2 linked regions of the Homo sapiens genome follow. The protein of the gene in region 2 interacts with the protein of the main gene of each other region in a biochemical or structural test. Each region holds a gene or a part of one and is shown on either strand. Other genes may lie near its edges.

Region 1 (3,800 bases), on a different chromosome or scaffold from region 2:
AAACAAACACAAAACAAAAAACCCAGAATGCTGGTATAGCCAGACTGAGGCAAGTGAGGGGGACAGAGGGGTGAGGACAGAGAAGAGCAGCCACGTCGTGTTGGTTCTTATGGGTAAGGCATTTGGAGTTTATTTGGGAAGTCATGAGAGAGGTGTTTTTTTTTTTTTTTTGAGACGAGTCTTGCTCTGTCGCCCAGGCTGGAGTGCAATGGCGTGATCTCGGCTCACTGCAACCTCTGCCTCCTGGATTCAAGCGATTCTCCTGCCTCAGCCTCCCGAGTAGCTGGGATTACAGGCACCCGCCACCATGCCCAGCTAATTTTTGTATTTTTTTAAATAGAGACGGGGTTTTACCATATTGGCCAGGATGGTCTCGTACTCCTGACATTTGATCCGCCGGTCTCGGCCTCCCAAAGTGCTGGGATTATAGGCATGAGCCACCGCGCCTGGCTTAATTTTTGTATTTTTAGTAGAGACAGGTTTTGCCACGTTGGCCTGGCTGGTCTCAAACTCCTGACCTCAGGTGATCCACCTGCCTCAGCCTTCCAAAGTGCTAGGATTACAGGCGTGAGCCACCATGCCAGGCCATGAGAGAGGTTTTTTTTGTTTGTTTGTTTGAGACAGAGTCTTGCTCTGTTGTCCAGGCTGGAGTGCAGTGGCACCATCTCAGCTCACCGCAACCTCCGCCTCCCAGGTTTAAGTGATTCTCCTGCCTCAACCTTCCGAGTAGCTGGGATTACAGGCATGTGCCACCACACCCGGCTAATTTTTTTGTATTTTTTTAGTAGAGATGGGGGGTTCATCATATTGGCCAGGCTGGTCTCGAACTCCTGACCTTGTGATCTGCCCACCTTGGCCTCCCAAAGTGCTGGGATTACAGGCATGAGCCACTGCGCCCGGCCAAGAGAGTTTTAAAACAGAAGAGTGAATGGTTTATGGGTGGGCAAGAGTGAAATCCAGGGCCAGGCACGGTGGCTCACGCCTGTAATCCCAACACTTTGGGAGGCTGAGATGGGTGGATCACCTGAGGTGAAGAGTTTTAGACCAGCCTGGCCAACATGGTAAAACCCTGTCTCTACTCAAATACAAAAATTAGTTGGGGCTGGGTGCGGTGGCTGACTCCTGTAATCCCAGCACTTTGGGAGGCTGAGGCAGGTGGATCACCTGAGGTCAGGAGTTCGAGACCAGCCTGGCCAACATGATGAAACCCCATCTCTATTAAAAATACAAAAAATTAGCTGGGCGTGGTGGCGGGCGCCTGTAATCCCAGCTACTCTGGAGTCTGAGGCAGGAGAATTACTTGAACCAAGGAGATGGAGGTTGCAGTGAGCCAGGATTGCACCACTGCACTCCAGTCCAGGCAACAGTGTAAGACTCCGTCTCAAAAAAAAAAAAAAAAAAAAAAGATTGGCTATAGTTTTCTCCCACCCATCCTAATCAGGTTCTGCCTCCATCGCTTCCTGAAAGTGCTCTTGTCAAGGTCACTAATGTCCTCTTGGGTCATTCTCCTTTTTTTTTTTTTTTTTTTTTTTTGAGACAGAGTCTCGCTCTGTCACCCAGCTGGAGTGCAGTGGCGCCATCTCAGCTCACTGCAAGCTCTGCCTCCCGGGATCACGCCATTCTCCTGCCTCAGCCTCTCCCGAGTAGCTGGGACTACAGGCGCCCGCCACCACGCCTGGCTAATTTTTTGTATTTTTAGTAGAGACGGGGTTTCACCATGGTCTCGATCTCCTGACCTCGTGATCCTCCTGCCTCGGCCTCCCAAAGTGCTGGGATTACAAGCATGAGCCACCGCGCCCAGCCCCTCTTGGGTCATTCTCTAAATTCGCCTCACTGCATCTCTTAGCAGCATGAGTCACTGTCTCCACCTCCCTGCGCTGGAGCACTCAGGCACTCAGGGCTCTGCTGGGCCTTCTCCTCCTCCATCAGCACTCTTTCTTTTTTTTCTTTTTTTTGAGACGGAGTTTCAAAAAATCAGACCCACCAAGGCATGTGGCAGTTGTGTTGCTCTTTGCTCGGTACCCGCTAGAGGTCTGTTGCCATTAATTTGAAATGAGACCAGTTAGTGTGACTGTGCATCTTTCCTGGCAAGTTAAATGACTATAGTTTCTCTGTTTGTAAAATGGGGATGATTATAATAGCACCTGCCTCACAGAGTTGTGAGAATTAAAATAATCAGTAATGAATTAAAGCACTTAAGGCCGGGTGCGGTGGCTCACGCCTATAATCCCAGCACTTTGGGGGGCCGAGGCAGGTGGATCGCCTGAGGTCAGGAATTCAAGACCGACCTGGCCAACATAGTGAAACCCTGTCTTTACTAAAAATACAAAAATTAGCCGGGCTTAGTGGCGGGCGCCTGTAATCCCAGCTACTTGGGAGGTTTGAGGCAGGAGAATTGCTTGAATCCAGGAGGCGAAGGTTGCAGTGAGCTGATCGCACCACTGCACTCCAGCCTGGGCAAGAGAGCAAGACTTAGTCTCAAAAAAAAATAATAAAATTAAAAAAAAGTACTTAAAACAGCACCTAGCATATAGTAAGTGTTCGGTAAACACTAGTAGTCACTGGTATCAGTTGTGTGCAAGCCAAGAATAGGAGGATGGTATGGTTGAGGTTTACCAGGAGAGAAAGACAAGGGTATCCTGAGAGTGTCTTCAAGAGTGTGCATGCCATGGTGGACTAGAATCTACAGTGGGTAAGGAACTGGACTGTAAATAAGTTTTTGATGAAGCTGAATAAATTGTCATGGTAGAAATAGCAGAGCAGGGTCAGGCCTGGTGGCTCACGCCTGTAATCCCGACACTTTGGGAGGCCGAGGCGGGTGGATCACCTAAGGTCAGGAGTTCGAGACCAGCCTGGCCAATATGGTGAAACCCCGTCTCTACTAAAAAAGATACAAAGTTAGCCAGGCATGGTCGTGATTATGATATTAATGATTATAATATTAAAACATTTTAAAAAATATATCTTGCAATACAGATAGTCAATTTGTTTTCTTTTTTTCTTTCTTTTTTTTTTTTTTTTTTTGAGACAGAGTCTCGCTCTGTGGCCCAGGCTGGAGAGCAGTGGTGTGATCTTGCCTCACTGCAACCTCTGTTTCCCGGTTCAAGCGATTCTCCTGCCTCAGCTTCCTGAGTAGCTGGGATTACAGGCACGCACCACCGCACCCGGCTAATTTTTGTATTTTTAGTAGAGATGGGGTTTCGCCAAGTTGGCCAGGCTGGTCTCAAACTCCCGACCTCAAGTGATCCACCCATTTCCGCCTCCTAAAGTGCTGGGATTACAGGCGTGAGCCACTGCTCCTGGCCAGTCAGTTTGTTTTCAAAAGATTTTTGTGGCTGGTGTGGTGGCTCATGCCTATAATCCCAGCACTTTGGGAGACCAAGGTGGGAGGAATGCTTGAGCCCAGGAGTTTGAGACCAGCCTTGGTAACACAGCCAGATCCTGTCTCTATCAAAAAAGTTGGGCCTATGGTCCCAGCTACTTGGGAGGCTGAGGTGGGAGGATCGCTTGAGCCTGCGAGGTTGAGGCTGCCATGACCTTTGATTGCACCATTGTACTCTAGCCTGGGCGACAGAGTGAGACTCTGTCTCAAAACAAACAACCAAAACCTTTTTGTGCTTTTTTTTTTTTTTTTCCTGCTAGTGTACCAGTTCTATCGCAACCTCTCTCATTAGGTATTTTCATTTTTAGTGTCTACAAGCTTAGCATTTGAAATAGATAACTTTTTTTTTTTGAGATGGAGTCTTGCTGTGTCCCCCAGGCTGGAGTGCAGTGGCGCGATCTCAGCTCACTGCAAGCTC
Region 2 (4,596 bases):
CAGACAAACTCACAACTCAGCCCCAGCCCTCCAGATGCACAGGATCTCTTTAGAGAAACTAAGCGTCAAGCAGTGTGGCATCGTCAACAACTCGCTTGCTTGGGTATGCTTTTGACAGATGCCTGTTGCCTTGCAGGGCCCCCCATGGGTACTTCAGGCCTCTCAAATTACAAAGCTGCTTCACAAAACCTTCTTCGAAACCTGAATAAAGCCCAGGACTCTCCCCACCAACCTTCATCAGCATTAGTATTGACGGGACACTCTAAGGAGTCAAGCAGCCAAATCACCTTTCCCTCCCCTCTCCTCACAGATGCTCTCCAGGGCTACACTTGGACTCCACAAAACACCAAAGAGCTGGAAGCACAGAAGCAGCTTCATAAGCAACAAGGCAGGTTGAAAAGACCGAGACCCAGGGAACACCGAGTCCAGATGATGTAGCCTATAAAATACAAGCCCCCGCAAAAGCTACTATTCTCCAGAGCGTCACCAAGCACGGAGACCCCGAAAGAAAGCAACCCTCACCTTTGTTGGCCCTTACCACTGGCCTAAACCTCTCCCTCTTCCCTGGAGAGCCACTGTGGAAAGACCAAGTCTTAAGTATGTGGGATTCAGAAGGTGCAAAGCTACAGACTGCTCAGACAAGGCAAAGAAAGCTGCCTCAGCAGCACCCAAGCTGCAGAGATGCACAAACACTCCCAAGGCCACAAGGTACCTGTGACACAGGGTGCCAGCCCTGCTGCTGCCTGTAGCATCCTCAAAACTAAATCGCAGCCATCTCCCTGTGACAGATTAGAAAATGAAGGCCTCGGCCTGGCCCAAGGTCACAGCCTGAGTGACAAGCCAGGGAAGGGGGCCGGGGAAGACACTCTGGCCCCAAGGCCCTTCTTTTTGTCGACTTTTCCACATACAAGTAAGTCCTTAAGGCACCGGTTCCTGAAAAGTCCCAGACACCAACCCTCGGCCTAGTTCTGCCGGTGGACAGATCTCAACGATCATACTCGCTCTGACAGGACAGACCAACCGAGCACTTGTCACGGGAGAACACCAAAGCAGACGGCCTGCCCACCAAGGGAGGCAGGCACCTCCGTGCGACGCCCCCTCCCCTCCCGCCGGCCGCAGGGAACGCGACGGTCCTCGGTCGCCTGCGTTTCGCGAAGACGCCCCCGCCCGGCTCCTCCGGGCCTCGAGCCGCGGGAGGCGCTGGACCCTCCGCTCTTTCGCCTCCCGAGCGGGGCCTGCTCCTCCAGGTCGGATGCGTCTCCCACCAGGGCCTGACGCCGCTCCGACCGGCCCGGGGACTCCCAGTCCTTCCCGGCCCGCGGTGGCACCTCCCAGGCTCCCGGCCTCGGCCCCGGGCTCCCAAATGCAGCCACTGCCTCCCTCGGCCAGGCCGCCCCGAGCGACCGGTGCCCCGCCCCTTGAGGCCAGGCAGGGCCAGGGGCGTGCGCCGCCCCGCTCAGACACCCCCCCGGCCGCCCGCGCTCACCGGTCCCGCAACCGCAGCCACCGCCTCCAGCCCCGCCTAGACCGTCCGCCGCTCCCCGCCCGGCGCCGCGGCGCCCCGCGATGACGTTGACGCCTCCCATTGGCTGCTTGTCCGAGGCCCGACGGACTGGCTGCCCAGGGGCGGTGGCCCCGCCCCCGGCCCGCCGCGCATCCGCATTGGCTGTCGGCCCCCGCGACGGCTGCGCGGGAGATTCGCTGGACGATCGCAAGCGCGGAGGCCGGGCGGGCGCGCGCGCCATGGAGCGGCTGCGGGACGTGCGGGAGCGGCTGCAGGCGTGGGAGCGCGCGTTCCGACGGCAGCGCGGGCGGCGACCGAGCCAGGTGCGGGCTGCCCAGGGGCCGAGGGGCTGAGGGCGCGGCCCGCGGCTGACGCGTTCCCTTTACAGGACGACGTGGAGGCGGCGCCGGAGGAGACCCGCGGTGAGCGCGCGGCGGGGCGGCGGGGGCGAGAAGACACCGGGTCGGCAGGGGCCCAGGCCCCACCCTGACCCCGCCTCCCGCTCGCCCACGCAGCGCTCTACCGGGAATACCGCACTCTGAAGCGTACCACGGGCCAGGCCGGCGGCGGGCTCCGCAGCTCCGAGTCGCTCCCCGCGGCGGCCGAAGAGGTACCCAGGCCCCGCCGCCCCAGCCTCCTCCCACTTCCCTGTTTGGCGGAGTGGCGGGAGCCACGGAGTCGCGGCCAGGCCGCCGTGGGGCACAGAACTTGGGAGGGGGACTGGGCAAAGTGAAGAAGGGCCGGGCCTCGCTCCAGGTGCGGGAGGGGTGGCTGGGAGCGCTTCTGCCGCCACAACAGCCTTTTCTGGCCTGTGCCCCTGTTGTCTCCTGCAGGCGCCAGAGCCCCGCTGCTGGGGGCCCCATCTGAATCGGGCTGCGACCAAGAGTCCACAGTCTACGCCAGGGCGGAGCCGCCAGGGCTCGGTGCCGGACTACGGGCAGCGGCTCAAGGCCAATCTGAAAGGCACCCTGCAGGTGAGGAGTGGGCAGGCAGTGAGTCCACGCTAGGTCCACAGCTGCTTCCGGTCCGGGTCGCCCTCTTGTCATTTTTTCCACACAGACAGGCACGGGCCCCTGTGCCAACCAGGGCACGAGTCTTCAGGGAGCTTCTCGGGGCCTTCGCCCTTGACTCCCTTTCTAGTCCAGCCTTGTGCTAATTAGCCTGCTCTACAATTGAGCGTGGGGACTCAGGTAGGTTTTAGAGTCTACAGTAGCTCAGGGGCCTGAGTTCCTCCTGCTGTTCTGTTGTTCCCCTCCCAGGCCGGACCAGCCCTGGGCCGCAGACCGTGGCCTCTAGGAAGAGCCTCATCTAAGGCATCCACCCCAAAGCCCCCAGGTACAGGGCCTGTCCCCTCCTTTGCAGAAAAAGTCAGTGATGAGCCTCCACAGCTCCCTGAGCCCCAGCCAAGGCCAGGCCGGCTCCAGCATCTGCAGGCATCCCTGAGCCAGCGGCTGGGCTCCCTAGATCCTGGCTGGTTACAGCGATGTCACAGTGAGGTCCCAGATTTTCTGGGGGCCCCCAAAGCCTGCAGGCCTGATCTAGGCTCAGAGGAATCACAACTTCTGATCCCTGGTGAGTCGGCTGTCCTTGGTCCTGGTGCTGGCTCCCAGGGCCCAGAGGCTTCAGCCTTCCAAGAAGTCAGCATCCGTGTGGGGAGCCCCCAGCCCAGCAGCAGTGGAGGCGAGAAGCGGAGATGGAACGAGGAGCCCTGGGAGAGCCCCGCACAGGTCCAGCAGGAGAGCAGCCAAGCTGGACCCCCATCGGAGGGGGCTGGGGCTGTAGCAGTTGAGGAAGACCCTCCAGGGGAACCTGTACAGGCACAGCCACCTCAGCCCTGCAGCAGCCCATCGAACCCCAGGTACCACGGACTCAGCCCCTCCAGTCAAGCTAGGGCTGGGAAGGCTGAGGGCACAGCCCCCCTGCACATCTTCCCTCGGCTGGCCCGCCATGACAGGGGCAATTACGTACGGCTCAACATGAAGCAGAAACACTACGTGCGGGGCCGGGCACTCCGTAGCAGGCTCCTCCGCAAGCAGGTAAGACAGCGACGGGCCAGGACAGGCATTCCCTTTCCCTCCCCTCAGCCCTCCCGTATTTCCCGCCCAGTGACCCTCCTATGTGGGCACCCCCCAGGCATGGAAGCAGAAGTGGCGGAAGAAAGGGGAGTGTTTTGGGGGTGGTGGTGCCACAGTCACAACCAAGGAGTCTTGTTTCCTGAACGAGCAGTTCGATCACTGGGCAGCCCAGTGTCCCCGGCCAGGTGAGACATCTGCCCTGGAGGGTGGGTCCGGCCAACACTGTGGAGAGGGCGCAGTGCTCTTTTGGGGGACACTTATGTTCCAAGCAACAGGCCTTCCAGGTACCCCTGGTCCAGGCCCTACCCTAGCTCCCCTGAAGGAGGGTGGCAGGGACGACGATGGCTGTCACTCTTTTCTGCTTTGGAAAAAGTAGCCCAGAGGAAGGGCACTGCCTGCTGCCAACCCCCTTTGGGGGAAGGAGAGGTTGTGGCCAGTGGTTGTCTTGCCCGACCTGGAGCTCCCATTCTACCCTCTCCTGCCTGCCCCAGCAAGTGAGGAAGACACAGATGCTGTTGGGCCTGAGCCACTGGTTCCTTCACCACAACCTGTACCTGAGGTGCCCAGCCTGGACCCCACCGTGCTGCCACTCTACTCCCTGGGGCCCTCAGGGCAGTTGGCAGGTGAGCAGTCAGCTTCTGGCCCAGAGCCTTCACTGAGGGGTTGGGGTGACTCAAGTCATGGTGATCAACATCTGTGTCTGCAGAGACGCCGGCTGAGGTGTTCCAGGCCCTGGAGCAGCTGGGGCACCAAGCCTTTCGCCCTGGGCAGGAGCGTGCAGTCATGCGGATCCTGTCTGGTGAGCGTGGCTGCCAGGGCTGAGGCTGGGCTGAGGCCAGGCTGCAGAACCCTGCTGCTGACTCCCGCCCCATCCAGGCATCTCCACGCTGCTGGTGCTGCCTACAGGTGCCGGCAAGTCCCTGTGCTACCAGCTCCCAGCGCTGCTCTACAGCCGGCGCAGCCCCTGCCTCACGTTGGTCGTCTCTCCCCTGCTGTCACTCATGGATGACCAGGTGT

What was found.
Region 1: the proteins of RECQL4 (region 2) and WRAP53 form a complex in vitro, tested with the Homo sapiens proteins (one study listed by BioGRID).

Annotation. Positions count from the first base shown.
Region 1 is NC_000017.11:7,691,238-7,695,037, forward strand, and holds part of WRAP53 (telomerase Cajal body protein 1), read left to right. Parts: intron 1-3,800. UniProt on the Homo sapiens protein: RNA chaperone that plays a key role in telomere maintenance and RNA localization to Cajal bodies. Specifically recognizes and binds the Cajal body box (CAB box) present in both small Cajal body RNAs (scaRNAs) and telomerase RNA template component (TERC).
Region 2 is NC_000008.11:144,514,932-144,519,527, reverse strand, and holds the start of RECQL4 (ATP-dependent DNA helicase Q4), read left to right. Parts: upstream 1-1,694; 5' UTR 1,695-1,743; coding exon 1,744-1,827; exon of another isoform or gene 1,828-1,892; coding exon 1,893-1,926; intron 1,927-2,019; coding exon 2,020-2,114; intron 2,115-2,337; coding exon 2,338-2,478; intron 2,479-2,763; coding exon 2,764-3,540; intron 3,541-3,637; coding exon 3,638-3,764; intron 3,765-4,070; coding exon 4,071-4,202; intron 4,203-4,285; coding exon 4,286-4,378; intron 4,379-4,455; coding exon 4,456-4,592; intron 4,593-4,596. UniProt on the Homo sapiens protein: An ATP-dependent DNA helicase which unwinds dsDNA with a 3'-overhang in a 3'-5' direction. Does not unwind more than 18 bp of dsDNA. May modulate chromosome segregation. The N-terminal domain (residues 1-54) binds DNA Y-shaped DNA better than ss- or dsDNA.